2 separate regions of the Homo sapiens genome follow, and region 1 is linked to region 2. Evidence: fine-mapped expression QTL. Tissue or cell type: blood mononuclear cells. Region 2 holds a variant in brackets; the other region holds the start of a gene. All regions are shown on one strand. Distances are from middle to middle.

The links. PIP is the estimated chance that this variant, and not a neighbour inherited with it, causes the effect.
Region 1: it holds the start of PLAAT5, and the variant in region 2 is fine-mapped to the expression of PLAAT5 in blood mononuclear cells (TOPMed, PIP above 0.99).

What each region holds. Positions count from the first base shown.
Region 1 is chr11:63,489,980-63,492,587 of GRCh38, reverse strand. PLAAT5 (phospholipase A and acyltransferase 5) reads left to right here and starts at 1,421. Exons shown (of 6, transcript NM_001146729.2): 1 at 1,421-1,701; 2 at 2,255-2,345. The coding sequence starts at 1,554.
Region 2 is chr11:63,549,993-63,552,751 of GRCh38, reverse strand. No RefSeq gene overlaps it. Among named protein-coding and RNA genes, the nearest start is that of PLAAT2, 12 kb to the left of the region's middle. The variant C/T (reference allele first, on the strand shown) is at 1,424.

The DNA.
Region 1 (2,608 bases), 60 kb after region 2:
GTGGAAGTGGCTAGGTAGCTCTGCAGGACCTCCTTTATAAGGGCTCTTATGAATCCCACTCATGACCAAAGGGCCCATCTCCTGATACCATCACTTTGGGGGTTAGAATTCTAGCACATGAATTTTATGGAGTCACAAACACCCAGACCATAGCACCATTTTTATAAAGTTTCAGAGAAGCAAAACAAAGTGATGTATTAGGGATACAAAGAAGCGATTTAAAAAACTATTTTAAAAAGTGAGGGTATGACAGACACAAAGGTCAGGATAGACGTTGGGCGTGCAGAGGGAGAAGGGATAAGGAAGGAATCCATAGGTGGGGAGCATCTGTACTAGGAATGTTCCATTTCTTACGTAGGATGGTTTTGTCATGGGTAGTAATTACATTATGTTTCCTAACTGTGTGCGAGAGAGAAGGAAAGAGAAAATCAGTTGGGGAAGACTCAATGCAGAAGCGGCCTGCCTGAAAAGTCACAGCAACAGGCAAAAATAAAACAACCTGGTAAAAAACTCAGGCTCCACCTGCACACAGATAAGCAGACAGGGTCCAGCACAGAAGCCTTTTGTTCTTTGTATAATTAGGGAGCTCCCAGGAAAGTTTTCTCCCCTTTTCAGGCATATACATGGTGGGAACTTTCACAGGGAGGAGGGGGGCTTACCTAAAACAAACCCACAGTTATGCAAACAAAAAAGGCGGTGCTTTGTGCTTGCATAGATACATAACCACAGCTGCGTAAGACAGCTTTACTGATAAGAGAAGTTACTCAAACTACTACAGAGATAAGAGATTTTCTTGCAAAAGCTTTTGAATTCAGCTGTAACAGGGCAATCCACTTGCATACTCAGCTCACTGTGGAGAGCTTTCTTCTTTCGCTTATTAAACTTTCGCTCCCACCTCACCTTATGTCCCGTTCCTTAATTTTCTTGGAGTAGGACAAAGAATCCCGGGTATCAGTCCAGACAAGGAGAAACTGCTACATTAAGGTACATTGGCAAGACTGCAACATGTGTATTCCATGTACTTTTTCATAAGTTATCTATTACGTAAGTGTAGATTTCATTTTCTATATATTTTTAAAAATAAAACAACTCTGAATTGTTCAAGATTTTAACCCCTGATTGTGCCTCCCAAGGCTTCCTAATCTGGTCTCCATTTACCCCTCCAAGTCACGCCTCTGTTCCAAACCGTTCAGCTTCTCCAGCCACTTTAGGCACCACCTCTGAGCCTTTGCTGTTTCCATGACCTTCCCCAAAACGAATAACCTCCTTCGCCCCTCTCCGCCTAAAAGACCCACAGATTCCCGGGCCTCTAAGCGCCCCGTTTCGTCCCATTCTGTTCTCGGACGCGCTCACTGCGCCCGCGCCACTGTCGCCACCCCGCGCGCCTCTGCCGTTTGCAGCCCGCGGCGCTTTCCCCTCCGCGGTTCCTCCCCGAGCCGCCCCCAGTGCCCAAGCTTCCGCGGCTCCGCCGACCAGGGGCCGCGCCGACTGGGAACTCGCCAGGGGCGTAGTCCCCTGCAAGGCCTGGGGGCCGGCGAGGCCGCAGAGGCGGGATGGGCCTGAGCCCGGGCGCCGAGGGGGAGTACGCGCTCCGCCTCCCTAGGATTCCCCCACCCCTCCCCAAACCCGCCTCGCGAACCGCCAGTACCGGGCCCAAGGACCAGCCGCCTGCGCTCAGACGTTCAGCTGTGCCCCACTCAGGTCAGCCCCAAGAATGCGGCTGAAGGACAATCCGCAATTGTCCTTCAGGTCCCAGCGGGCGGTTACCCTCAAAGCTCCTTTTCTTAAGACATTTGGCGATTGTGTTGTCTGTTAGCCATCATGAGCGAGTATTTCAGAACGACCGCTTGTTATAAAGCTAATCAAAGCGAGCCAGGCAGCCACTCCCTCCTTCCCGCTATATCTCATATGGAAGTGAGGCAGTGGTGGCAGCTCCGGAGGGTGGTGTTAAGACCGGCTCTGGCTCGGCAGAGGTTCCTCCCATCGGGCTTAGGATAGAGGCGAGGCGCCCTTCTTCATCCTCTCCCCGATTCCGTTCCCAGGAATCCCAAAGTCTCTCTTTGGCAGAGGAACTGAACCCGCTCCAGCACCTAGTTCCACAACCCTCTCCATTCATCCCAAGATTTTCTGAGGCCTAACCAGGGGCCAGGCACGATGCTAGACTAGAGCTCTGAGCCCACTCTCCGTAGCGGTCAAGGTGCTTGCTCGAACTCTCCTTTCACAGGTCTAAATAGCATTTCCCCCCTTGAATTAGAAGAATCCGTGGGATTCGCAGCGTTGGTCCAGCTCCCAGCCAAGCAGCCTCCGCCGGGCACATTAGAACAGGGCAGAAGCATCCAGCAAGGGTAAGAAGATTGTAAGGTTGGGGTCTTTGGGTGGAAGAAATCTTTTGGAGAATTGACTTGGAATGCAGTTCTGTAAAACAAACCCAGAGGTGGTTTTTGTGTGAACCAGCCAGCCGGTACCCAGCAAGGGGAAGGCTGGTGTGATCCTGGGTGATAACAGATGGTACTGGGCTTGGGACCTGCTGGCCACAGGCATGCGTTGCAGCTGTTTCTAGCCACAAGGCCATTCTCTAGACCCCAGAGAAATGAATGGCTTTAGCAGG
Region 2 (2,759 bases):
GTTTCTCTCACACTCCAAATTCATATGTTGAACTCTAACCCACCTGTGGGATGGTATTGGAGGTGGGGTCACTGGGAGGTAATTAGGTTGTGAGGGTAGAGCCTCTAGGATGGATTTAGTGTTCTTATATGAAAAGGAAGAGACTAGACCGGGCACAGTGGCTCATGCCTGTAATCCCAGCACTTTGGGAGGCCAAGGTGGGAGGATCACCTGAGGTCAGGAGTTCGAGACCAGCCTGGCCAACGTGGTGAAACCCCATCTCTACTAAAAATACAAAAATTAGCCAGGCGTGGAGGCAGGTGCCTGTAATCTCAGCTACTCGGGAGGCTGAGGCACGAGAATTGCTTGAACCCGGGAGGCAGAGGTTGCAGTGAGCCAAGATCATGCCATTGTACTCCAGCCTGGGCGGCAGAATGAGACCCTGTTTCAGAAAAAAAAAAAAAAAAAAGAAAAAAAGAAAAGGAAGAGACCAGAGCTGGCACTCTCTCCACCACGTGAGGATCTAGTGAGAAGGTGGCTGTCTGCTAGCCAGGAAGATTCTCCAGGTGCTCTCAGCATAGCTCTCACCCTGACAAGTGGCTGCCCTGAACACTTACTCCCTCCACCGCCCCAGGGAAGCACAGGTCTCCCCCTGGAGGATGCTTCCGGGGTGCATCCGCCATCTTTGGTCCCACCAATTTCTTCACAGGAAGTGAGAGAATGGGGGGCTGAGCAGCTCCTGACCTTTCTGCCCACAGCTTCAAGCTTGCACTGAGTGATGCTGCTCCAAGGCCTGAGCCTGCGAAATCTGCAGTGGGCAGACAGGAGCTGTCCTGGGACATCAAGCAAGGCTGCGAGTGAGACTGCCCATGCAAGTCTCATCAGAGAACATTCCAGTGGCCTGGCCCAGAAAACTGACTTTTAGGTCAAATTGACTGGAAGGGAATCCAGAGCTTTTGCTTAGTGGCTGTGTGACCTTGGGTCAGTGGCTTAGACTCTGAATCTAGTTTCCGTCCACACAGTATTAAAACTGCCCACCTCCCGGGAACTATGGAGATCATGTAGCCTGAGAATGCGGCTAGTGATTTTGACTTCGGAGTGTGTAAACAGAACAGCTGTTGTGGTCAATTTGAGCACGCTTTCCAAAACAGAGATGGCAGGAGAAGCTGTGTTTAACATCCCTTTGTGTCCGGAATTGCTGGGTTCTTGGTCTCACTGACTTCAAGAATGAAGCCGCGGACCCTCGCGGTGAGCATTACAGCTCTTAAGGTGGCGCGTCTGGAGTTTGTTCCTTTTGATGTTAGGATGTGTTCGGAGTTTCTTCCTTCTGGTGGGTTCGTGGTCTCGCTGGCTCAGGAGTGAAACTGCAGACCTTCGCGGTGAGTGTTACAGCTCTTAAGGCAGCACGTCTGAAGTTGTTCCTTCCTCCTGGTGGGCTGGTGGT[C/T]TTGCTGGCTTCAAGAGAGAAACTGCAGATCTTCGCGGTGAGTGTTACAGCTCATAAAAGCAGTGTGGACCCAAAAAGCGCGCAGTAGCAAGAGTTATTGCAAAGAGTAAAAGAACAAAGCTTCCACAATGTGGAAGGGGACCCGAGCAGGTTGCCACTCCTGGCTCGGGCAGCCTCCTTTTATTCTCTTGTCTGGCCCCCGCCCCTCCCGCCCCTCCCGCCCCCATCCTGCTGATTGGTAGAGCAGAGTGGTCTGTTTTGACAGGGTGCTGATTGGTGCGTTTACAATCCCTGAGCTACATATAAAGGTTCTCCACATCCCCATCAGATTAGTTAGATACAGAGTATGGACACAAAGGTTCTCCAAGGCCCCACCAGAGCAGCTAGATACAGAGTGTCGATTGGTGCATTCACAAACCTTGAGCTAAACACAGGGCGCTGATTGGTGTGTTTACAAACCTTGCGCTAGATACAGAGTGCCGATTGGTGTATTTACAATCCCTGAGCTAGAAATAAAGGTTCTTCAAGGCCCCAACAGAGCAGCTAGATACAGAGTGATGATTCGTGCACTCACAAACCCTAAGCTAGACACAGGGTGCTGATTGGTGTGTTTACAATCCCTGAGCTAGACATAAAGGTTCTCCACGTCCCCACCAGACTCAGGAGCCCAGCTGGCTTCACCCAGTGGATCCTGCACCGGGGCTGCAGGTGGAACTGCCTGCCAGTCCCGCGCGTGCGCCCACACTCCTCAGCCCTTGGGTGATTGATGGGACTGGGTGCTGTGGAGCAGGGGGCAGCGCTCGTCGGGGAGGCTCGGGGTGCACTGGGGCCCACGGAGGTGGGGGAAGGCTCAGGCATGGCAGGCTGCAGTCCCGAGGCCTGCCCCCTGGGAAGGCAGCTAAGGCCCAGCGAGAAATCGAGTGCAGCGCCAGTGGGCTGGCACTGCTGGGGGACCCAGTACACCCTCTGCAGCCGCTGGCCCGGGTGCTAAGTCCCTCATTGCTCGGGGCCGACAGGGCCGGCTGGCTGCTCCGAGTGCGGGGCCCGCCAAGCCCACGCCCACCCGGAACTCCAGCTGGCCAGCAAGTGCCGCACGCAGCCCCGGTTCCCGCTCGTGCCTCTCCCTCCACACTTCCCTGCAAGCTGAGGGAGTGGGCTCCGGCCTTGGCCAGCCCAGAAAGGGGCTCCCACAGTGCAGCGGTGGGCTGAAGGGCTCCTCAAGTGCCACCAAAGTGGGAGCCCAGGCAGAGGAGGCGCCGAGAGCGAGCGAGGGCTGTGAGGACTGCCAGCACGCTGTCACCTCTCACCTTTCTTTGATGGGCTAGAGACAGATCCC